Linked DNA regions of Homo sapiens: regions 1 and 2 are each linked to region 3. The links come from fine-mapping of genetic effects on gene expression. A gene starts in region 3. Each other region holds a variant in brackets. All regions are shown on one strand. Distances are between the middles of the regions. Region 1 overlaps ANO10 (anoctamin 10). Region 2 overlaps LOC107986081 (a long non-coding RNA gene). Region 3 holds the start of ANO10 (anoctamin 10).

Evidence for each region. PIP is the estimated chance that this variant, and not a neighbour inherited with it, causes the effect. A credible set is the group of variants that fine-mapping cannot tell apart.
Region 1: its variant is the best candidate, but not a certain one, in a credible set for the expression of ANO10 in whole blood (TOPMed, PIP 0.70).
Region 2: its variant is the best candidate, but not a certain one, in a credible set for the expression of ANO10 in whole blood (TOPMed, PIP 0.88).

Annotation. Positions count from the first base shown.
Region 1 is chr3:43,573,182-43,581,367 of GRCh38, forward strand. ANO10 (anoctamin 10) reads right to left here. Exons shown (of 13, transcript NM_018075.5): 5 at 7,172-7,291; 6 at 3,511-4,080; 7 at 1,628-1,683. Among named protein-coding and RNA genes, the nearest start is that of ANO10, 45 kb to the right of the region's middle. The variant C/T (reference allele first, on the strand shown) is at 3,091.
Region 2 is chr3:43,894,034-43,902,219 of GRCh38, forward strand. The region is part of intron 1 of LOC107986081 (a long non-coding RNA gene); the gene reads right to left. Among named protein-coding and RNA genes, the nearest start is that of ABHD5, 210 kb to the left of the region's middle. The variant G/C (reference allele first, on the strand shown) is at 3,182.
Region 3 is chr3:43,617,021-43,625,206 of GRCh38, forward strand. ANO10 (anoctamin 10) reads right to left here and starts at 4,991. Exons shown (of 13, transcript NM_018075.5): 1 at 4,889-4,991. RefSeq lists a silencer at 4,705-5,204 and enhancers at 5,260-5,912, 5,913-6,565.

The sequences.
Region 1 (8,186 bases), 44 kb before region 3:
CACAGAGGGCACAGAACAGAACTTCCTAGCTGATTTAGCACCAACATTTTAAGTATCAGCCATTTCACGGTGTGAAGGAGGCCTTCGAAGCCTTTTGGATATGTAGGGCTACTTTTCCCTTTCCTATTGCCCAATTGTTGAATTCTTATCTCTTATGACAGCTTTTCATTTCCTTACCTGTTCTTTCTCTGTAGGTTTGCCTACTTCCAGAAATCTAAACACCCTCATGATGGTGATTTCTGATTTTTTAAGGACCGAAAAACCAGATAGATAAACTTCTTAGAATGATTTCTACAGCTAGAACAGAGATTCTAAAAGAGGGCCTGCATCCTTCTCTTGGGAGTAAAGTACACGGACTGTGTTAAATCAATTCCAGTTGAAAGTTCAGATGATTCTTCAGGTAACTTTCTTGATTCTCACTTATGTTACAGATGACTGAGGTAAACCCCCGATAAATGAGGTGTTTTCAAGCTGGTACTTCTTTATTATTTATAATAATGGTAGAAAGAGGCACGACATGTCAGCTTTTAACAAACAGCAAGCAGGTTACATACTGCTTTCTCTCTGTCTCTTTCCTCCCACCTGTCAAAACATGCTGGGAACCTTTTGAACTTTGGAAATCTAACAAAAAAAATTTTTTTTAATGTAATATTCCATCACTAAACAGGTTGTGGTGACAGGAAGGATTGCTAAATAGCAAAACATTCAAAGAAATCACCAAAAGGAAAAGAATAGAAACATATCTAAAAAGTGGGTTAGTTTTGTTGTTATTGTTGTTGTTTTTGTTTTTTGAGACAGGGTCTCGCTCTGTCACCCAGGCTGGAGTGCAGTGGTGCAATCTCGGCTCACTGCAACCCCCGCCTCCTGGGTTCAAGCGATTCTCCTGCCTCAGTCACCCCAGTAGCTGGGATTACAGGTGCCACCATACCCGGTGAATTTTTTTTGTATTTTATGGTAGAGACAGGTTTTCACTGTGCTAGCCAGGCTGGTCTCAAACTCCCGGCCTCAAGTGATCCACCTGCCTCAAGCTTCCCAAAGTGCTGGGATTACAGGCATGTGCTACCGTGTCTGGCCCGTTAGTTTCCTTTCTTTCTTTTTTTTTTTTTTGAGACAGAGTCTCGCTCTGTCACCCAAGCTGGAGTGCAATGGTACCATCTTGGCTCACTGCAACCTCCACCTCCTGAGTTCAAGCGATTCTCCTGCCTCAGCTTCCCAAGTAGCTGGGATTACAGGCCTGCGTCATCATAGCCAGCTAATTTTTCTATTTTTAGTAGAGACAGGGTTTCACCATGTTGGCCAGGCTGGTCTCGAACTCTTGATCCACCAGCATAGGCCTTCCAAAGTGCTGAGATTACAGGTATGAACCACCACACCTGGCCTAGTTTTTAAATAACTGGAAATTGGCTATAATACTAACTCCTATATTTTGAAGTCTTACATCACATGCACATTTGTAATAAGGCTACTGAACACAGAGGTACACATATTTATTAATCAATCCTTGCCTATTTGCACAAAATATATTGATATCTTAGATTAGAAGCAACTCTTCATATTTGTATTCCTATATATTATGTAGTATATACCAGTTTCATAAAATGGATTTGTACATAAACGCTGTACTTACCACTAAAACTTTCAGAATTAGATGGTTCTGATAGGCAGATTCCAATCTGTGATTCTCTAAAACATTAAAACACACAGGTAACTTCTCAGTAAGAAAACAATACGAAAGCACTGTTATGAGGTAAAGTGAGTTGCATTGAGGGCGGAGATGTCCAACATCAGAGCCTCAGTCAGTAAATGTACTAGGCTGTCAATCACAGCTATGCCTTACCACCAAGAGCATCAAACAGGGACACATTTTTCAGGGTACTGCAATAGCACTGTAGTCTGAAATTATTTTTTAAATTACTGCTACAAAGAAATTTGGGAAGTGCTGGCAAACAATCCTACAGACAGCCACCCAAAGACCCTGTATAAGAAGTAATAGTGAAAACTAATAATAGTAACCTCTAGAGAAGAGGGCAATAAATAAAGTTTTCTGTAAATAAAGTTCTGTAAGTAAAGTTTCATGTGGCTTACAAGGGTTAACTTGAAAGGAAACTCAAATTTCTATCTTCACCTAGAAAAGGTAATACTGCATAGATCCCAAAACAGCAAGATAAAATGACAAAAAGGAAGATTCTGAAGAGAAGTGTCATCTTACACATAGAGTGTTGGACTGACCTATATTTGAACACCAACTCAGCTACTCAGCCACTGCCTAACCTTGGGTAAGTTACTTAACCTCCTGATACTCAGCCTTATTCCCTCAAAACAAGGCTGACCATCTTCCTCCCAGGGTCACTCTCAGGATCAGAAATAATATAAAACTTTAGCCTAGTATTAGCACAAGGAAAGTACTTGATAAATGACAGCTGATATTGTCATACAACTAATAAAAATAATTTAAATCATCTTTTTTTTTTTGTGAGACGGAGTCTTGCTCTGTCGCCCAGACTAGACTGCAGTGGCACGATCTCGGCTCACTGCAACCTCTGCCTCCTGGATTCAAGTGATTCTCCTGCCTCAGCCTCCTGAGTAGTTGGGACTACAGGCGTGTGCCACCACGCCCAGCTAAATTTTTTTATTTTTAGTAGAGACGGGGTTTCACCATATTGGCCAGGCTGGTCTCGAACTCCTGAACTTGTGATCTGCCCACCTCAGCCTCCCAAAGTGCTGGGATTCCAGGCGTGAGCCACTGCGTCTGGCCCCTAAAACATATTTATGTCCCATAAAGTTAAGGCTTTGACTTCTTCCTAGGGAATAATATAGCGAATTTGTTCATTGGTTTGAATGAATAAATAAAGAGTCAATGGCCTATCAAGACCATTTTCAACTTATAACCAAGTTCCTTTTTTACCACAGATACATCCATAAACACCTGCCTTCAATGAACTCAACAGCAGTCCTCAGTGCCTCACACCAACTAGACACTCCATTTTAGGAAACTGGTCATAGTTGATTCAGCTGAGTATCATGAAGACATTTTTTTTTTCTTTCTTCTGTGGCTCTAGCCAGTGAAACAATTTCAATCTATTTTACCCT[C/T]GGCATGAAACACAATGTTATGTATTAGGAGCACAAGCTTTGGAAAGATAGGTCTGAATTAGTCTAGCTCCACTATTTGCTGTCTGAACCTCATTAAGCATCAGTTATCTTTATCCATAAAAGGGTGAAATAACTTCTACTTCACGGTACCCTTGAGAAGGTGATGGTGAGATACTGTGAATAAAGTGCTTAGCAGGGCACCTAGAACATAGTAATTAACACATAATAAATGAGAGTTACGATAACCATGGCATGGAGATCATCAGTGTTCACAAAGCTGATAAATTTTTCCTTATGTCTCTATAATGAGCCAAGAGCAACATCTATTTTCTCTGCAAGGTAGCAGCTATGTGAATCCCATGATCTAGGCAACATTTCTTACAGGCAAGTAAGACGTGAATATAAAGCCTCAAGTCTTACCCCATGAAGTTAAAAACTCGGCAGCATATCGATAGAGACGATTCATGATCTCAATCACAATGGCATAGATGATGCTGGGCACATACAACAGGACACTGGTCCACTCAGACCCGCTGTTCTCATGTAGACCCAAGGCCCAAACCTCCATGTCGAAGTAAATCATCATGACATACAGTGAGAAATAGAGGCAGAGGCACACGAATGGCAGGGAGACCAGGTAAATGCGCAACTGTCTCTTGTAGCTGGGGTACAGAGGCTCCTCCTTCCCAGTGATGGAATTGATACCCAAGACACCATGAAATCCTGGCCGGGGCTCCTCAAACTTTCTCTTCATGAGCAGTGTCCCCCACCTGTAGGTCATGTTGGCACAGCCACGCTTCCACAGTTCCAGAATCACCGTGGACCAGATGAGGTTGAACGAGGCAAAGATCACGTACTTGTCATAGTCTTCCCACACAAACAAGTAGTAAGGTAACCCAATGACAGCCATGGGGATTAATGCAAAAGTGAAATACTCCAAAAATCCAAAGTACAGAGCAATTGTTTCCCCAAAGTAGCCACGAATACTGTCTATAGTGGAAACAAAGAAAGAACATAAGTATAGACTACCAAACACTTTAAAAAATCATTTCAAGTACGCTTATTCATTTTTTAGTTAAGTGGGGATCATTCAACCCTCACTTCCCAAACAGCGTGTGGTGGTAAATCTACCCTCCATGCAGTATAAAGACCCTGCTTGTCTGCATGGCAGGTCCAACATTTCCCCCAGGTTAGGGGCCAGGCCTTAGCTGGGGGGTGTGCTCCGCCAGGTGCCTGGACTCTGTTTCCCCTCACCTGATGGATACCTTCTTCCCAAAGGAAAACTCATCTTGTAGCTTACCCAAAATCTCCAAGGTCCTAATTTAAGTTCAGCCATGTCCACTGAACATTAATTTGGGGGTTTAATTTATGCTCCCCACTTTTCTCCCACTTAGTGTTATAAATGTTCTTTTTGACGAAGACTCCCCATCCACAAAATTCTGCTCTTCCCTACCCAGAGACATAAACTTTCATCAATGTGTTATGGAAGATTTTTCAATACACTAAAGAAAAATTATTCAAAAGCACAAAACAGGATTCTACACATAAACTTCCAGAACAGCCATGGAACACATTTATCAACACTTTCATATATGCACTGGGCAGAAGAAGGTCCAAGCAACATGACTGCTAATGTTCTGTGAACTCAACACAAGCTAAATGACTCTAGAGGGGTCACCAACACTGCATCCTTTGCCAGCCTCATCCACATGGGGAGTGCTTGGATCATAAGAGCATCTTGTACCAGGACCAGGGTGGGAAGCAGGGGGTGAGAGGAAGTGTGACAGTTGGTGTTATTATTTCTTAGTTAATAATACACAGTTAACATATTTTTCTTAAGATAATTTGAGCAGTCTACAAAAATGAGTTAGAATGAACTGAGATAGGCTATTTTCTCCTATCCTTAATTCTTCCCCCTAACCCAAGAGCAAATGAAAACAGTAGGTATGATTTCACCTCAAATTTAAATCAGGTTAAAGAACATCCGATCATTTCTTTTTAAAAGATGCTCATGACACTTGGCTCCACAGCAGATGACCTTCCCCTTTCAATCTCAAGGAGCCTCAAGATCCACCTATGTCCCAGATGCTATCACCAGTCTCAGTCCCCAGCGACCCCAAATCCACTACCACCCCATGCCTAGCCTTCACCATCGACTCACTTTCTCCCCTTACTTTCTAAGAAGTAGCTAACAGAGGCCGGGAGCAGTGGCTCACACCTATAATCCCAGCACTTTGGGAGGCCAAGGCGGGCGAATCACCTGAGGTCAGGAGTTCAAGACCAGCCTGGCCAACATGGGGAAACCCCGTCTCTACCAAAAATACAAAAATTAGCCGGGCATGGTGGTGTGTACCTGTAGTCCCAGCTACTCAGGAGGCTGAGGCAGGAAAATCACTTGAACCTGGGAAGTGGAGATTGCAGTGAACTGAGATCACACCATTGCACTCCGGCATGGGCCACAGAGCAAGACTCCATCTCAAAAAAAAAAAAAAAAAAAAAAAAAAAAAGGAGTAGCTAACAGATAGTCACTTTACAAGTCCTAGAGGCAATATTCAAATTTCCTGCCACTTAAATGCCAAAACAAAGTTAAACAGTTGTTAAGTGTAATATAAAATGACTATTGTATGACCTGGAATTAACAATAACAAAACTTTTCCTTTCAGAGAATATAAACAAAATTCAAAATGTAATTTAGGGTTTGATCTTACAACAATTTTTGTTTGGTAAAACATTATATAATAGTTGTTTTCAGAAATAGAAAACAGAAAGAAAATTATTTTAGGATACCATTAAACAAAACCAAAAGGAAAATGTCCTTTAAAGAAAAAAAAATGATAGTAATGCAAAGGTGAAATCTACCAGCTTAAAAAACATAACCAGACTAAAATATTTGAACATCCATATTGACAAAATTTTAAATAATGTCCAGCACATACCAAATAAATTAATAATTATTCTTATAATTATATTCAAAGAAAATTGACAGATCCAGTAATGCATGCCAAGGTAATTACAAATCACCTCAAAAGATGTTTGGCCTGCTAGTTGCCCTAAGTGTGGCATAGCTTGTTTCATTCTAAATAACTGGCTCCTCAAAAATAGAAATTTTCAAATACAAAATAGTCATTTATAGTCAAACTAAATTCTTATTAAAACTTGTCTGAGGCTGGGCACGGTGGCTCACACCTGTAATTCCAGCACTTTGGGAGGCCAAGGTGGGTGGATCACCTAAGGTCAGGAGTTCGAAACTAGCCTGGCCAACATGGTGAAACCCCATCTCTACCAAAAATACAAAAAATTAGCCAGGCATGGTGGCACATGCCTGTAATCCCAGCTACATGGGAGGCTGAGGCAGGAGAATTGCTTCAACCTGGGAGGTGGAGGTTGCAGTGAGGTGAGATTGTACCATTGCACTCTAGCCTGGGCAACAAGAGTGAAACTCCATCTCAAAACAAAAACTAAAACAAAAACAAAAAAACTTGTTTGGTTCCAACTCTGACACACATTCAGGAAGGCCACTCTGAACTGTCTGTGTTGTTGGTGAAGGGTAGTAAAAGCCTGTGATTCCACTGATCTATGGTAGTATTAGAACATCAAAAAATGCAAGGCACAATAGCTCAGACCCATAATCCCAACACTTTGGGAGCCCAAGGCACAAGGATCGCTTGAGCATGAGTTCAAGATCAGCCTGAGCAACACGGCAAAACCCCGTCTTTACAAAAAATTAGCTGGGGATGGTGGTGCACGCCTGTGATCTCAGCTACTCAGAAGGCTGAGATGGGAGGATTGATTAAGTCTGGAAGGTCAAGGCTGCAGTAAGCTGTGATCATCCCACTGCACTCCAGCCTGTGACATAGTGAGACCCTATCTCAAAAAAAAAAAAAAAAAAGTTTAAAAAAAGAAAAAAGGGGTCATCTAACCTATCTTATTCCCTCCATCAAAATGTTTTCCCACATGTAGCTGGTGATCCCTGCCCAGTAGAGCACTAAATATCTGCCCAAGGGAGCTGACTCCACTGCTAGATCGTAACTTTTCATCAGAGGCCTTCCTCTTCTTTAAGAGAACAAGTACTGACACATACCTATGGGCTGATACTTCAAAGCAAACCGAGTGTACCAGGTGTCCTCAAGCTTCTTCAGGGCTTCACTGTCATGCAGTGGAAACACCTGAATCACGATGCCAGACGTGAGCAATCTTCTCACTGCACAGGGAAAATGTGCCAAACTGCATGAAATGGACTGGAGATTGTGCATGATACGCTTCAGCAAATACTATAAGGACACTCCACAGAGGAGTACAACGCAAAGGTCAATGTCATACTGCCTACTCCAAACCTGTATATTCTTTCATTTTTCAGAATGTAAATATCTTTACTATTCTCTTTGACTATGAAGCAAAAAAGTAAATATAAAATTTTAAACCATATAGAAGTGTAAAAATTAAGACTATGAGAGGCCCGTTAGTCTCTCTTTCCCCTTGAAAATAACCACTGTAAAAAGCAATATAGTGTATAACCAGACATAAAAATATATCCATATATATTTTAAGAACAAAAATAAAATCATTTTATACACACTATGTTGTTTCATAATCTTTTCTCATGTAGTAGTATACAGTGAATATTTTTTGATGCCAGTAAAAATAGAATATGAAATGTCCTTTTAACAATACCATAATATTCCCTTGTATGAAATGCTGTAATTCAACTAATCTTCTATTTAAAAATATGTTTCCTTTTGCTATTGTAAATAATGCTAAAATTTGTACAAATACCTTTCCCTACCTGTCTACTATTTCCTTAGTAAATATACTTAGAGGGGGAACTGCTAGGTCCAAGGGCATAGTATTTTAATATTTGATACATATTATAAAATTGTCTCCAGAAAAAATTTACCAATCTGTCCTTCCACTACAGTGAAGGTAAGAAAATGTTCAGTTCTTTTCATTCTTGTTGATACAGAGTATTTTCAATCCTTTTCATCTCTTCTAATCTGATAACAAAAGCTTACACTCACAAATAGCAAATAACAAAATCAAATTAAGACTTCCTACTTTTAGCAGTCATTTGACTAGTATGGTTTGAACACTCATGCATA
Region 2 (8,186 bases), 280 kb after region 3:
GTCCAGGGGGGCGGGGGGGGGCGGGCCTGCGTTTAAAAAATAACGCGTAATGGAGTTAAGATGCAGATTCTGGAGCCAGACTGTCTGAGTTCAAAGGCTCCTAATAGCTGGGCTCCTTAACCTCTCTGTGCCTCACTTCCTCGTCCGGAAATTGAAGCTAATAAGAGCACTGACTTCCCTGGGCGGCGGTTGAAGGCTACCTGTGTGGATCTGGGCACAGCGAAGAGCGGAGCCTTAACAGGGTGAGCACGCCGGTTGCGCGCTCTCCAGAGCAGCCCAGCATCTCCCGCCAGCCTCGCTGCCCGCTCCGCCCCGGCGCAGGGGCCCCAAGCCCACAGGCAACGCCAGCGCGCTCCCAACCGCTGGAGACAGAAACAATGTGCGCGCGCACACGGCCCACGTGCACGCGCGCACGCCCACGCGGCATACAGGCGCGCACGTGCACACGCGCGCCTGCACAGCTCTGCGGCTCTGCTCCGGCCCCACAGGCCCATCTTAAAGTGTTTCGTGCTCTAACTTACCAAACACGTGGCAGCCGGCAGAACGAAAAGGAAAATAAATGAACTGCGACGAAATAAAGCAGGCCTTTCCGCAGTCGGCCACGTCCAACAGCCACTTGGTTCCTAGCGCTTTCTCGTTACCCGGCTTGGGCAAAGCCAGGGAAGAAGGGGATAGGACATAGGGATGGGTTAACAAAGCGGGAGCAACAGACCAAAGTAACCTCCTTGTATTGCCCCCCACCCCTCATCCCCTGGGGACACCGGCCTGGCTCCCGTGGGACCAGCATCGCCATCCCTGTCCCCTGTACGAGACTCTCCGCTGGGCCGAGGGCCGGGCTTGTGTTTGGGAAGGTGGGTGCCAGGGCCCGTGCTCAGCGACCTTCCAGAGCAACTGCATCAAATGATGCTGGCTTTCTTCCCAGCCAGTCCCCAGCCACACCCATAGGGGACAGCAGTGGCAGCCCGGGACTCTATTTCCTGCCTACCCCTGGACAGGAAAGCCACCCGCAGGCGCCTTCACCTTGGTCCACGTCTCACTCGGATGATTCAACAAGGCTCTTTGGGAAAAAAAATTGAATTCGCCATTGAGAACACACATAAGAAACCAATAATCATTTTTGGTTTTTATGATGGAAACAGGCACAAAAATCACAATTTTATATAGGTTCAAGACTGCTTCCTCTCAGCAGCCCAGAGCTCTTTAAAGTAAAAATAAAAATAATCTTTCAGGTTTTTTTCTTGTGTATCTTATGGAATGTATATTAAAGTCCTGAATGCTAAAACTCCATTGAAATTTTATTTGGTTGGTGCAAAAGTAATTGCAGTTTTTGCCTTTTTTTAAAAAATTAAATTACTTCTGCACCAACCTAAGTAGTCTTCATTATCAAGTGAATTTCACCAACTGAACAGACTTTGAAAGAAATAGACACAAAAGGAAAAATCAGCAAACACGAATATTAAAAGTCTACTATTTAGTAGCTACTGATCCTGTTTGAAATCAATTCCTCTCTTTTTCTTCATACTGTCTCCTGGCCTCCCATATACTAGAGTTTTATAGACAACGTGGTCGCCCTCTGGAGCTGATTTGACCCCACTCCTCTTTTGGCAAAATTTTTATTTGCATTTCCCTTGTGCTCCCAACAGGTCTGTATATTAACAACATGCCTCGTTTTTGGCACAACAGCCTCATTAATTATGTCAGCAAAGAGCTGGCACTAGGGCTCCTCAGTGCCTGGTAATTCCCATTTCCTCACTGCTGGCTTTGCTGCCTCTGAACCACCAACCATCAGCAGCCCTCATTTTCCCTCTGCCTTCCCAGCCCCCTTCCTCACCTCCATTCTCCACGCCCCTCTTCCTTGCCCACTTCCCAATACTGCAAAGAACAGAACATGAGGTCCCAGAAGAATGACCCAGCAGAACTCTACTGGTTTTATTAATATGATTATTACTTGGCCTGAAAGTGGTAGATTTCCTGGATCCATATCCCAAGTCCTTCTGGCCCTCTTTGATAAGCTTTTAATGTTGATGATGATAACAATGGTTATCATTTATTGAGTCTTTACTATGCACCAGCCCCTGTGCTTAAAAAAAAAGATTACCTCCTGTAATCCCTAAAACAGCTCTAGAGACAGCTAGCATCATTAATACCATTTGACAGATTAGAAAACTGAGGCTCAGAGACTTAAGGTCACAGGACCAGAACTGGAAGGGCTAAGGTTGGACTTAAATGTGTCTACTGTCACCACTGCACGTCAGGACATTAGGTGGTCTCTTCTCTCACAACATGAAGCAATGCTAGCAAAAAGTGGCTAGGCGCTCAAGAGGTGTGAAACTTGGAAGTTACTCTAAAATGTTAAATGGCAGATAGTGCAGTGGCCTTACAAAATATCAGAAAAGCCATCTTTAAGAGTGTCAGTTTGTCAAAACAAATTATTGTCAAAACAAGCACAACAAGGAAAAACTGATTATGTTTTGTTTTGCTTTGTTTTCAGTTTCTCAAGCTTGCAGTAAAATGCTGAGATTCTGGCCAGTAATTTCCCCTTCAGACCTAACCTGCCTTGCCCAATGACTAGGTAAGTAGGACACAAGCAGTTGTATTCTCATATATTACACCTAATTTTACACCATTGGCCAGACTACCACTTTCCCTTCCCAACTGCATTTGGTATCTGGGTCGACATCCCAGGGAAAGACTTTTAAAGAACTCAAGGCTCACCTCCCACCCCCGAAGACCTGCAGTGGCTGCCATATGGAAACAACTCCGTGGTCATTAGGAGTCCCTTGACTAATATGAGTTCTCAGCCATTTTTCAAAACATTTTAAAGTGTTGATTTTATACCAGGCACTAGACCCAGGCACTGTGGATAAATAAGTGTGGTCTGTATTCTAATTTCACTTAAAAATTAATGTTTTAAAATACATTTGAACAGCTGACTCATGGGACAGAGAGAAACCAGGGATGCAGGACAATTCATATCACGTTTAAGAAAGCTAATAGCAGAAAGGATCCAAATGCATTCTGAAAAAAGAAGAGACATTAAGGACCGGATTTTTTCATTGTTTACCAAAAATGAAGAGATCTTCTCAGGAATGCATAGGACAGGTTTCTTGTCCATGCCACAGGGCAAGGCAAATGGTTTATCATAGCAGCTAAATTACATTATTTTCAAAAGTTACCAAAA[G/C]AGTACATGCTTGATATGAAAAATTCAAGCCCTATAGAAACATTAAAAGGTAGTAGCCCTTTTACAGTATTAAAAGCAATAGCCCTTTCACAGTCTCCCCGGCTACAATTTCATTCTAGGGATAACTACTGTGAACAGTTTAGTGTTGAATCAAAGGAGTCTAGGCTTCTTTCCTGAATACGACAGAAAAAAAATATCCTAAGGAACATGACCCAGAGGAAAACTGAGTTCACAGAACTTATGGAGTCTCAGCTACTGGGTTTCAAGATCCTTACTAGTGGGGTAGCTTATTCATGCCTGATCCTTGACTTCTGTTATCTGCATCGTAAAAAAAAAAAAAAAAAAAAAAAAAAAAAAGCCTAAGATGGATAACATTTGCATGTGATTATCCAGGACTCAATGACAGTCAACAGGCAAACTACCATTCCATCCTCTGGGTAAGGCATTCCAGGTTCTGGTTAGAGGCCAAATGTGCTCATCTGGCTGCTGCCACAGTCAAGCCTTAGCCAACGTTATTGTCTTTATGTTAAATTAACTCATCACATTAGTGATGTACAGAATCTTGGGTAATGGAACAGGTACAATTTAAGGCAAGAGGAAGAAAGTCAGGCTGATGAATCAATATCTTGGGTGAGGCACTGGAATAGGGGCTTTGGGAAGCTGGGGCTCTGGGCAGCTGACGTTCTGGAGAGGGTCTAAAAAGGAAAAAATGGGAACATGGCTCAAGAGATGGGCTAGGTTTAGACCATAACTTCACTCACTTTTCACTTTTCCTTGGAGCACATCAGTATAATATGAAGTTAGATTTGGGTTAGTTTCCATCAGTTTACATCAGCACAGATTTAACAAAGGACTCCACACATTCTGCTCCAGAAAGTTGACCTTGAAGGCTAGAGGGAGGAGGAATAGCCACAGCTGCCACCAGGCTTCCTGATAGCCATTCTGCCGTGCATGGTCCATCATAGAAGGAGACTACATGCCCCAGCCTCCCTTGTTCAGTGTGGCCACCTAACCCTATTCTGCTGCAAGGTAATTCGTGCAAGGGGTGTGTGCAGTGTCCCTGGAGTGTCCTTTATTTTAGGCTGGCTTCCCCAGAAAGAGATACTAACACAAAAACTTGAGTACAAGTTGTTTGTCTGGGAGGTGATTCCAGGAAGTATTAGTAGGAGAGTGGGGGAAATGTGTTAGTGTGAGTCTTCTGAGAAGTAGTTGCCAAGGTGGGATTACACATGAAAGGATTTTATTAGGGTAACTATCAACGTGAGGGAGAATGGGGAGGGAGCCACATGAGGCTCAGAGATCTCTCATACCTCCAGCCAAGTCTGACCCTGAGTGAAAGAGGTGGGGAAAGAATGTCTTAGACTGCCAGGCTGTCTATGGAAGGGTCAGCGAAGCCATCATGGAACCCTGGAGCCAAAGCCAGTGTTAGAGGAGCCCCACATCTCCTAGAACAACCTGCATTCGAGTGTCCCTGCTGTGCTCAGTCACTGACAGGGAGCAGCCCTTGGGAAGCATGTCCTTCGGCTTCCTAGTGCAGCAATTGCCAGGCCCTTGGTTACCAATACTCCCTCTAATTGGAGGCAGGACTGCTAGGCACATTCTCATGGGCACTATAGGAAATGAGGTAGGAGAGGGAAGCAGGCATCAGAGTGCACTGGTGAGCAGGTGACCACTGCGGGCAGCCGAGGTGCAGTCCTGGTTACCTCTAGGAGACTAGCATCTTCCCCACTTGAAGGGCACAGAAGGTGAGAAATAAACTCCCAATCTCTGGAAACCACTGATTTGTTGGCCTTCCCTATTGCCGCTACAGTCTTAATTAGCACAGGGGTTCAATACCAAGCGTGAATGTGTTAGAGATACCTTTATTTATTTATTTATTTATTTATTTAAGACAGAGTTTCGCTCCTTGTTGCCCAGGCTAGAGTGCAGTGGCACAATCTTGGCTTACTGCAACCTCTGTCTCCCGGGTTCAAATGATTCTCCTGCCTCAGCCTCCTGAGTAGCTGGGATTGCAGGCGAGCGCCACCACGCCCTGCTAATTTTTGTGTTTTTAGTAGAAACGGGGTTTCACCATGTTGGCCAGGCTGGTCTTGAACTCCTGACCTCAGGTGATCCACCTGCCTCGGCCTCCCAAAGTGCTGGGATTACAGGGTTGAGCCACCATGCCCGGCCTAGAGATACCTTTTAAACTTCATTTTGGTAAGGCATTTCCACTTGCTCTTCCCAGGAACCTTTTTGCCAAAGCTGCTAACAAACTGAATGTATAACTGATCTAAATTATGTTTCTCCACACTCCTCTCCCACCTCCTGCTTCCCTACCTGCTACAGAATCAGAAATGTGTGTTAGCCCCCAAAGTGAGGAACACAGAGCAAGGGATTCTGTGTAAAACCATGCAGAAGAATCCATCCCCTCTCCTCTCCCCCTTCCCATAAGGACATACCACCAAGTCTCTGATTATAACCATTTCTCTTCTTTACAACTCTATATAAAAACTTATGCCCCTCCCCTCAAAAAAAAAAAAAAAAGGACTAGATGGAAATACACCAAAGCAATACCTGGCTTTAATAAGGTGGTTGAATTACAAATATTTTCCTTTTATTTCTTTTAATGATTTTCCATAATGAAATGTGATTTTTACCTTTTAAAATTAAATGTTTACATTAAACTATTTTTTTCTACTTTATGCTTAAAATTTTTCATAATAAAAATTATGTTTTAAAATTTCAGAGCAATTTTACCTCTTATCCTTCTGTATTATTTCAGCTCAGACTGCTTTAACGAAGTGCCGTAGATCAGACAGCTTTTAAACCACAGAAATTCCTTTCTTTTTTTTTTTTTTTTTTTTTTGAGGTCATTTCTCTGCCAAGTAAAGTCCAGACTAGGTATTCCTACTGGGTGGGCAGCTTCCCTCCACATGGTGACTGGGGATCCATGCTCCTGCTCCTTCCATCTTGAACTCTGAAAGTGGCACAAACACTTCCACTCATATTCTGTTGGCTGTAGTTGTCACATGGACATGGAGAACTGCAAGGGAACCTGGGGGAATGTGGTCCTGTGGTATTCCCAGGGAAAAGAGGATAGTTTTGATGACCAGCTAGTTAGTTTCTGCTACAGAAAGTGACATAATTAGAAGAATGTAAACTCAGACCAGATTTCATTTGCCAGCATACCCTTAGGAGAGACCCTTCCATCATCACCCCTTAGATTCAATGAACTGCTCAGCCAGGGAAAAACAAGGTTTGCCATCTGCCCCAAGATCACAAGTGAACTAACAATCACCAAGGATTTAGAGAAGATGATATGTTTGTGTTCTGGCATCAGGAAGAATGAGGGGGTGAAGGGAAGGCCAGAGAGCAGAGGATATTAAGGTAGCAAAGGTGGGAAGGTGTTATAGACTGAATGTTTGTGCCTTCCTTAAATTCATGTGTTGAAATCCTAACACCCAACATGATGGTATTAGGAGGTAGGGCCTTTGTTATGTGATTAGGTCTTGAGGATGAGGCCTTCATAAATGAGATTAGTGCCCTTATAAAAGAAACTTCAGAGAACTCCCTCACCCCTGTTGCCATATGAGGCTACAGCTAGAAGATGGCCACCTGGGGACCAGGAAGCAGGCCCTCACCGGACACCAAGTCTGCTGGCACCTTGATCTTGGACTTCCCAGCTTCCAGAGCTGTGAGAAATACATTTCTGGGCTGGGCGCAGTGGCTCACGCCTGTAATCCCAGCACTTTGGGAGGCCAAGGCGGGTGGATCACCAGGTCAGGAGATTGAGACCATCCTGGCTATATAGTGAAACCCTGTCTCTACTAAAAACACAAAAAATTAGCCAAGCGTCATGGTGGGTGCCTGTAATCCCAGCTACTCAGGAGGCTGACGCAGGAGAATGGCATGAACCTGGGAGGCAGAGCTTGCAGCGAGCCAAGATTGTGCCACTGCACTCCAGCCTGGGCAACAGAGTTCACTTGTGATCTTGGGGCAGATGGCAAACCTTGTTTTTTCCTGGCTGAGCAGTTCATTGAATCTAAGGGGTGATGATGGAAGGGTCTCTCCTAAGGGTATGCTGGCAAATGAAATCTGGTCTGAGTTTACATTCTTCTAATTATGTCACTTTCTGTAGCAGAAACTAACTAGCTGGTCATCAAAACTATCCTCTTTTCCCTGGGAATACCACAGGACCACATTCCCCCAGGTTCCCTTGCAGTTCACCATGTCCATGTGACAACTACAGCCAACAGAATATGAGTGGAAGTGTTTGTGCCACTTTCAGAGTTCAAGATGGAAGGAGCAGGAGCATGGATCCCCAGTCACCATGTGGAGGGAAGCTGCCCACCCAGTAGGAATACCTAGTCTGGACTTTACTTGGCAGAGAAATGACCTTCAATTGTATTGAGCCACAAAAATGCTGGGGCTTGTTTGTTACAGCAGTGAGCCTACACTAACCAATAATACACTGTTAATCTTTCATGTCTGCTAGACGTGCTTAGTAATGGTGCTCTGAATTCATGTAATTAGAAGTAAATTTGACTGCAGAGATCAAGGAAGCTCCCCTTTTTGGAGGACTTGCAACCTGAGCAATTTTGTAATCATACTACAATAGGGAGGTATTGCCCTTGATGTTTCCCATGAAATCTCATAGGATTTTCCAGATAACTGTATCTTTCCTCAATGGAAGCAGTTTTAGACAGGGAGCCTAGATTCTCTGCCCCTAATTATCAGCAGAATGATGCATGAATCACCCAACCCCTATAAGCCTCAGAAATTATACAATCATTTTAGAGATGGACAATACCAACGGTTGTAACAACTAACTGTGGCTGAGTTACAGGTAGGGTTAATCCATTAATAGACTAACTCATTTAATCTGCACAGGCACCAGTGATGTGGGTGATATTATCATTATTTTGAAAATAAGAGAAACTGAGGCACAGAGAGATTAAAACACTGCCCAAGGCCACAGCTAGTAAATATCATAATGAAATGTAATGGGCAATGTAACTCTAGG
Region 3 (8,186 bases):
CTGGCTCAATGACGTAAATATCAAGTGTAAGGTGTAAAGCGGTGGAAACAAGAAGCCTCATGGCAGCCTTGGCCTAAACTGAGTTCTGGAATCTACTTTTACCAGAGGGTCTTAATGGGAACTTGCTCTACCATTACCAAGCATACGAGATGAAAAAATGGAAACAAAATACCAGACAGGGACATGAAGGCTTTAAGTCTTCCTGCAGGTGTAGCACAAACCTTATGGTTCCAGTTGGGGCCAATCTAAAAACAATGATTTGACCATACAGACTTCCTGGGCACCAGAGGGTAGAATGATTTCTGTATTGCAGCCAATATCCTCCTTTGATCGGGACTCTCAGCCAGGACAGCAGCCAGGCTGATTATAAGGCACAGAGCAGCCAGGTTCCACACAGACCCTGGGGCGTGGGATTATGAGACAGCGATCCCAAATTGTGTTCTTTATCATGTGTCGAATTGCACACAGGGTCAAAGAGAGACCTACAAATAAGTTAAATTCATGTGGCTTTTACATTAACAACTGGATCACTGGCCCACAAGAGGTAAAGTCTGACCATTGTGGTCAAGATGTAGAGAAACACACTGTGAGTTCACCATGGAGAGGTCAGGGGAGTGTGTGGAGAGTGGGGAGTTATTTTAACAAGGATCAGGAAAAGAATAATGGATTCTTTATTCTGGGGATTATTCTTTTCCTGAATTTGGGTAAAGAAAAAAAAAGTCAATGGAATTATCACAAACTCAAAGGTTAAGAAGGAAATGCATAACACTGTCTTCAGGAATCACCTTATTCCAGATTCAAAGAGAAACAGGAACGAAAAGTATTCTCAGTTATGAAGCAGATTAGGAAACACTTCAGTAAGAGAAAAATGAAGGACCGCACTGCTCAAGCTGGAAGATGAGAGGAATCTCCATAGGACAAAAGTTGCAATTTTAATGGCCAGGCTAAAAGAGGGCCAGGCCAACTCCAGAGGACCCGAGATGCAGAGACACTACTTACCTACAGGCAGGCAGTTAATGGTGAGAGCAATTGTGGGAGCCTCCCTCCTTGTACCTAGGGCAGCTGCCTTGGGGAGTTACACAGATGTAGACAGACGTGAGAATGGAGAATCAGCCCCGCATACACCCATCCTTACTATAACAGTTTCTCAGTAACACAGATAACTTAGGGAAGCTGGTGAGGACCACTCCCTGAGGGAACTCCATGCCCTTAAGATTCCACAGGAAGGTACAGGAGAGGTGAGACACAGGATACTGAAGACAGTCCTGCCACAACAGCCCAGGCCGGATTAGATGCTGCACTAACCTCTGCACACAATCACTCAACTGAGTCTAGCCATGGAAGCACCAGTGAGGAAAACAAGAATATTTCCTCCTCTCACTCATGCCTCCATCTACTCTCATTACCCCAGATACTGCCAAGAGTTTGCTTGTTTTGGCTAGAATAATGTCAGAAATATACTGTGGCATCTCAGTAGAAATGCTCTAGAGGCTGTGAGGTGGCCCTGGGCTGAAGAAGTTCCCAAGACACAGACCTTTAAAACTGGGACAAGTTGATCACACTTGGTAAAGAGTAAAGGCCATTACTCTTTCCTCCAAAAGACCCAGGGACTGGAGTCAGCATCTGGCACTCTGTTTTTGAAAGATTCCCACTGCCAATTCATAGACTAATAAAAGAGATAATAAGCATGGATTACTCAGATCATGCTTTCTAGTCTGTAACTCCCAGAAGATTTAGAAATGGCATATAAAAGTAATTAAAAGGCACCTTATTAGTTATACGTCTTTTTTTTTTTCTTTGAGGCAGAGTCTCGCTCTGTCGCCCAGGCTGGAGTGCAGTGGAGCAATCTCTGCTCACTGCAAGCTCCGCCTCCCGGGTTCACGCCATTCTCCTGCCTCAGCCTCCCGAGTAGCTGGAACTACAGGCATCCGCCACCATGCTCGGCTAATTTTTTTTTGTATTTTTAGTGGAGACGGGGTTTCACCGTGTTAGCCAAGATGGTCTTGATCTCCTGACCTCGTGATCCGCCTGCCTCGGCCTCCCAAAGTGCTGGGATTACAGGCGTGAGCCACCGTGCCCAGCTATGGTTATACATCTTAATCAAACAGTAGTCTATTCATATAGAAAAGGAAGATAAATATCCCCTTCTAAGGGATAGGTTTTGGATATGAATTCAGGGGAGGTGTGTGCTTTCTAGCAGGCCTGCTTCACTTTACAGGTCTGCACCAGGTCATCCTGTTTAGGAGGATGCTCAGGTTAAAAGAGGCTAAGGACATATGACGACTAAATACAGTGTAGGATCTCAGACTGGATCCTAAATATTAGTGGGACAATTAGTGAAATTTGAATAAGGTCTGTAGATTACACTAATAGAATTGTATCAATGTCAATTTTCTGGTTTCAACAATTGCACCATCGTCATCTAAGATGTTCACATCTGGGGAAGCTAGGTGAAGGGCATAAGGAAATTTGTACTATTTTTGCAACTTTTTGTAAATCTAAAATTATTTCAAAACAAGAAACTTTTTAAAAAGAGCCTCTTCCAGGGGCTGGGCACAGTAGCTGAGGCTTGTAATCCCAGCACTTTGGGAGTCCATGGGGGGTGGATCTATTGAGCTCAGGAGTTCAAGACCAGCCTGGGCAACATGGCGAAACCCTGTCTCTACAATAAATACAAAAAAAAAGAAAAAAAAAATTAGCTGGATACGGTGAAGCTCTCGCCTGTAGTCCCAGCTACCCAGGAGGCTGAGATGGGAGGATCACCTGACCCCAGAGGTCAAGGCTGCAGTGAGCTGTGACTGCACCACTGCACGCACTGCAGTTTGGGCAACAGAGTGAGACCTTGTCCAAAAAAAAAAAAAAAAAAAATCCTCTTCCACCCAAAATTCCGTAATTTCCTAACACATACACACAAAAACTCATACACATTAAAAATAACAGTTTTGGATTCACACATGACATGAGATTTATTGTGAGCTTTTAACCATTAAAACAAAGGTTTACTGCTTATAAAAACAGAAGGCTAGAGACAATTTAACTGACAGATGAGAAAAAGGCTTAGTACAGCTCTCATGCAAGCCATGACAAATATATCCATTTGAGGAACACTGATTTTTCACCTCCAAGCACAGTACTAGGCACATAACTAAAACTCTAATATTTAAAAAAAGAATGAATCCACATGATGAATGATTATACAAGCATTTTCAAAGATGTTTAAGAAGAATTTGATCCACAAAAATGCTAAGTGAGAAAATGTAAGGTGGAAAGAAAAAGCAAAAGTATGAAGTAATATAACAATATTACCCCAATTAGGTAACAATACTACCCTAATTTTGTGTACATTCATATACACAAAAATACAAAAATTAGGAAGAAATGCATCAAAATGTTATTACATGTGGCAAAACTACAGATTTTAATTTTCATCCTTATAATTTTCTCTGTCTTCCAAGTTGTCTACAATGAAAAAAGTTGGCCAGCACAGTGGCTCACGTCTGTAATCCCAGCACTTTGGGAGGCCGAGGTGGGAGGATTACCTGAGGTCAGGAGTTCAAGACCAGCCTGGCCAACATGGTGGAACCCCATCTCTACTAAAAACACAAAAATTAGCCGGGCATGGTGGCAGGCGCCTATAATCCCAGCTACTCGGGAGAATCGCTTGAACCCGAGAGGCGGAGGTTGCAGTGAGCAGACATTGTGCCACTGCACTCCAGCCTGAGCGACAGAGCAAGACTCCGTCTCAAAAAAAACAAAAAGAAAAAAGTTTCAGTGGGTTTAAGTGCATTTACACACTTCAATTTATCAAGACTTTTCTATGCCCTTCCATTATTTTAGATCTTTCAAATTTCATTCATCTGCAACTCTACGATTCTTTCAGCAACAGCTGTTCAGAACAGATGATTTACTTTCCATAGCGAATTTTAAACTGTTTATCATGCAGAATGGGCCCTTAGAAAACATCTAGTCCTCTAGATTTGTATGACTTTAAATTAAAAGTAGACACTACAAAGTGGATTTAACCGCTTTAAACCCCACAGGATTAGATTTAAACTCCGCAGGATTTAAGGCAATATGATACAACTGTGTCTTGAGTCTGAATAAACCTCAGCTGCACTTTTTAAGTCTGGGATCTCCATACACCGTCCTGCTGGAATATAAGGTTTTACAGAAGGCAGCGCACACCAATGCTGGTGCTGTGAAGGCACCCACAAAATCAGACGCTGCCTATAGGGGAGAACCCCATTCCATCCACGTTTCTCAGGTGTCCCAGGCACTAGCCAGACAGGTATCTATTATTTAAACTGTACAGTATGTCCCAGTCAAAAGCCTGGAAACTCAGTCACCTCGATGTGAGCATTATCCTGCAAGCCCGCTCCGGCCAAACCTGCTTGGAGACAGCCTAGTCCGCCCTGATCCCCGGACTGCCCGGGAAGCAAGAACCCCGGGACCCGCGAGCTGACCCTTCTAAAAACCACCCTTCACTCCGCTCCGCCGACCACCCCACTCACTGCCTCCTTCCCCAAAGCGCTGAGGCCCCCAACATCCTCCATCCTGACTTCACCAGCCCCAAATTTCCGCCTCACCGCCTTTCTCTCAGGACTCAAACCCTCGCCCCAGACCCATAATCCCCTCCACAAACCTCTCCCCTCCCCTGCGACCGCCGCTCCCCGCAACACCTTCACTCGTCCCTGCCCCCACAGCCCCCGCGCCCATCCTGGTCCCACTTCCCATCCCCAGGGGTGCTGGCACCGGGAGGCGGCCCGGGAACGCAGGGCGGCGACCAGGCGGAGCTCCTGGAGCCTGCAGCGGCCGGGGCTCTGTGGCTGCAAGGGGCCGGGCTCTGCTGCGGACAGCTGGGGGGTCCGAGGTGCCCTCCCCGACTCACCAGCCGCCGCAGCGCTCCACGTCTTCGGAGGCGGGTCCGAGAGCCGGCGAGAACCGGAGGCCGGGCGAAAGAGTGCTCGGTGCGGGGGGCGGGCCAGGCCAGTGGGGCGGGCGCCGCCGAGCGCTGGGCGTGGCGGACGCGGCGGGGCCTAGATGCGGTCACACGCAGGGGGGCGGGGCCGCGGCGGGAGAGGCGGGGCCTCACTGGGCGGTAGCTCCGGGAGGGGCGGAACTGCGGTGGGAGGGGCGGGGCCTCACTGGGCGATCGTAGTGGACGAGAACCTAGACTGGAACCGGTCCGAAGAAAAAAAGGCAGCCCTCATTGGGCTGTCGCCTGGAACAGGAGACCAGGCCGGGAGAAAGGGAGGGGCGTGCCTAACGTACTGTACCACCCATCGAAATCCGGACGGCAGCGGGAGAGGCGCGGCCGAGAAGGCAGAGGCCTGGTTGGGCTGTCACTCCGAGCCGGGGCGGCATGTGGCTGGGCTCTCCAACCGCGAGCGGTCGGGGCAGGGGAAAGGAATACGCCCCTTCACATTTCCCTCTTCCATCTCTTAAAGACCAGAACCTAATTTTCTGGTCACTTTCAGGTATAAGAACAAGTCTCATTTTAACTGTAGCTCACTTTCAAGTTGTGAAAAACGCAGATCCTTTTATAATTAAAACCTAACATCCAACCACAGCCAAATCCCAAAACCCTTGCTCCTCCTAGAAATCGCCAGACACCTTTCCACCTCCAGGCTCAGAGTCTGCCCCAGCCATTCCTTCTGCCCAGAAAGCTCTTCCCTCGGTTGGCTGCTTGGCTCACTTCCTCACCTCCCTCAGTGTTTGCTGGGCTCTCACTTTCTCCCTGAGGCCCTTTCTGACCATCCTACTTAATACCTGTTCTCATCTGCTCCTCACCCCACCATTTCCTTACCTGCTCTCCTATTTCTTCTGTCCACCACACTTTTTGACTTTTTGTTGTTGTTGTTTTGAGATAGAGCCTCGCAATGTCACCCAGGCTGGAGTGCAGTGGCGCAGTCTCGGCTCACTGCAACCTCCGCCTCCCGGGTTCAAGCGATTCTCCTGCCTCAGCCTCCTGAGTAGCTGGGATTACAGGCGCGCACCATCATGCCCAGCTAATTTTTGTATTTTTTGTAGAGACAGGGTTTCACTATGTTGGCCAGGCTGGTCTAGAACTCCTGACCTCAGGTGATCCGCCTGCCTCGGTTTCCCAAAGTGCTGGGATTACAGGCGTGAGCCACCGCGCCCTGCCGGCTTTAAGTGTTTTTAGTTACCCAGGGTCTACCACAGTCTGAAAATAGGTGAGGCCAGAACAATAAGATATTTGGAGAGAGAGAGAGAGACCATATTCACCTTTTATTACAGTCTATTTTTATAATTGTTCTATTTTATTATTATTCATTGTTGTTAATCCCTTACTGTACCTAATTTATAAATGAAACTTTATCATAGTATGTATGTATGTGTAGGAAAAAACATAGTATACATAGAGTTTTATACTATCCTCAGTTTCAAGCATCCACTGTGGATCTTGGAATGTATCTCCCACAGATAATGGAGGATTACCAGCCCCAATGTTTAGAACAGTGTTAGGTCCATAGCAGACAAGCAATAATTCTGAAATGAAAAATTTAAAAAATGAATGAACACTTTCTGCCTCCATACATCCAGCTTTGGCCAGATCAATGCCTCAACAAACTGCAGTGCGGAGAAGGCTGGTCTGTTCTTTACTCCCCACCCTTCTCTGGGTCTTCCAGGTTCCAGGCAGGAGGCAGGGAAACTAAAAGAAAGGAGCAGAAGACTCGTTACTTGGTAGGAGCAGTTTGTCATTCTTTCTAGTCCTCCGATGCTATCATGGCAGCTCACAACATTATTAACCAGTTTTTGTGCAGCTATCTTTTTGTAGGTCCTGTGTGGTTATGTTCAGAAGTTCTCTCTTTCTTCTGAAAATCAGGACAAATTATTTATGAACTTCAATAAGTTTAGACATGAATTACTCCTTAGACTTTTGTTTTTAAATTGTACTCTTCTTATCTTCTCATCCTAGAACGCACGGCCATCCTCCATATAATTTCATTTTCTTATATTTATGTGGCTGGAGGAATTAGGAAGAAAAATGAATGGAAATATAAAAGTCATTTTCTCTTGTATAATCTTATTTCATCTCCACAATTAACAAATTAAAACTTTCTGTTAAGTATAGCAAATTGTTGGACAGCATAAATGGCAAACCTGAGTTAATGACATAGATCCCTATATAGTAGTCCCCCTTAGCCACATTTCAATACCCCCACTGGATGCCTGAAACCACAGATAGTACTGAACCCTGTATATATTATGTTTTTTCGACCTGATAGCCTAGATGGCTGCTAAGTGACCAAAAGGTATGTAGCATTGATATAGTTTGGATCTGTGTCCTCACTTAAATCTCATGCTGAATTGTAATCTCCAGTATTGGGGGTGGGGCCTGGTGCAAGGTGATTGGATCATGGGGGTAGATTTCTCATGAATGGTTTAGCACCATCCCCTTGGTGCTGTCCTCGAAATAGTGAGAGACTTTTCACAAGATCTGGCTGTTTAAAAGTGTGTGGCATCTTGCTCTCTCTCTGTTGCTCCTGCTCTCGCCATGTGATATGCCTGCTCCCCCTTTGCTGTCTGCCATGATTTTAAGTTTCCTGAGGCCTTCCCAGAAGCCAAGCAGATGCCAGCATCATGCTTCCTGTACAGCCTGAAAAACCAGAGCCAATTAAACCTCTTTGCTTTATAAATTACCCAGTCTCAGTTATTTCTTTATAGCAATATGAGAATGGACTAATACAAGGACCTACAGTATGGACACACCAGACAAAGAGATGATTCACATCGCAGGAGGGATGGAGTAGGACAGGCGGAGATTTCATCACGATACTCAGAATGGCACACAATTTAAAACTTATGCAATGTTTATTTCTGGAATTTTCCATGCAATGTTTTCTGACCTCAGTTGACTGAAGGTAATTGAAACCATGGAAAGAGAAACTGTGGCTAAGGAGAACTACTGTATCAATTACCTATGACTGCATGTCAAACAATTACACAGAATTAGGGATTCCTTTCTCCACTTGTCTCTCTTTGGGTATTTCCTCCATGTTCTCTCTGGCTTCCAAGAGTCCCTTTTCCCAACTCCTCTGTCCAGAAGGACAGGTTTTCTCTCAGGTGACTGTGTCACCATACCACTGCAGGGCAGCTCCCAGACAGGGAATGGCTTCAGGGAAACGGAGGGAGAGAAAAAAAGGAATCAGCAGTTTCCACCA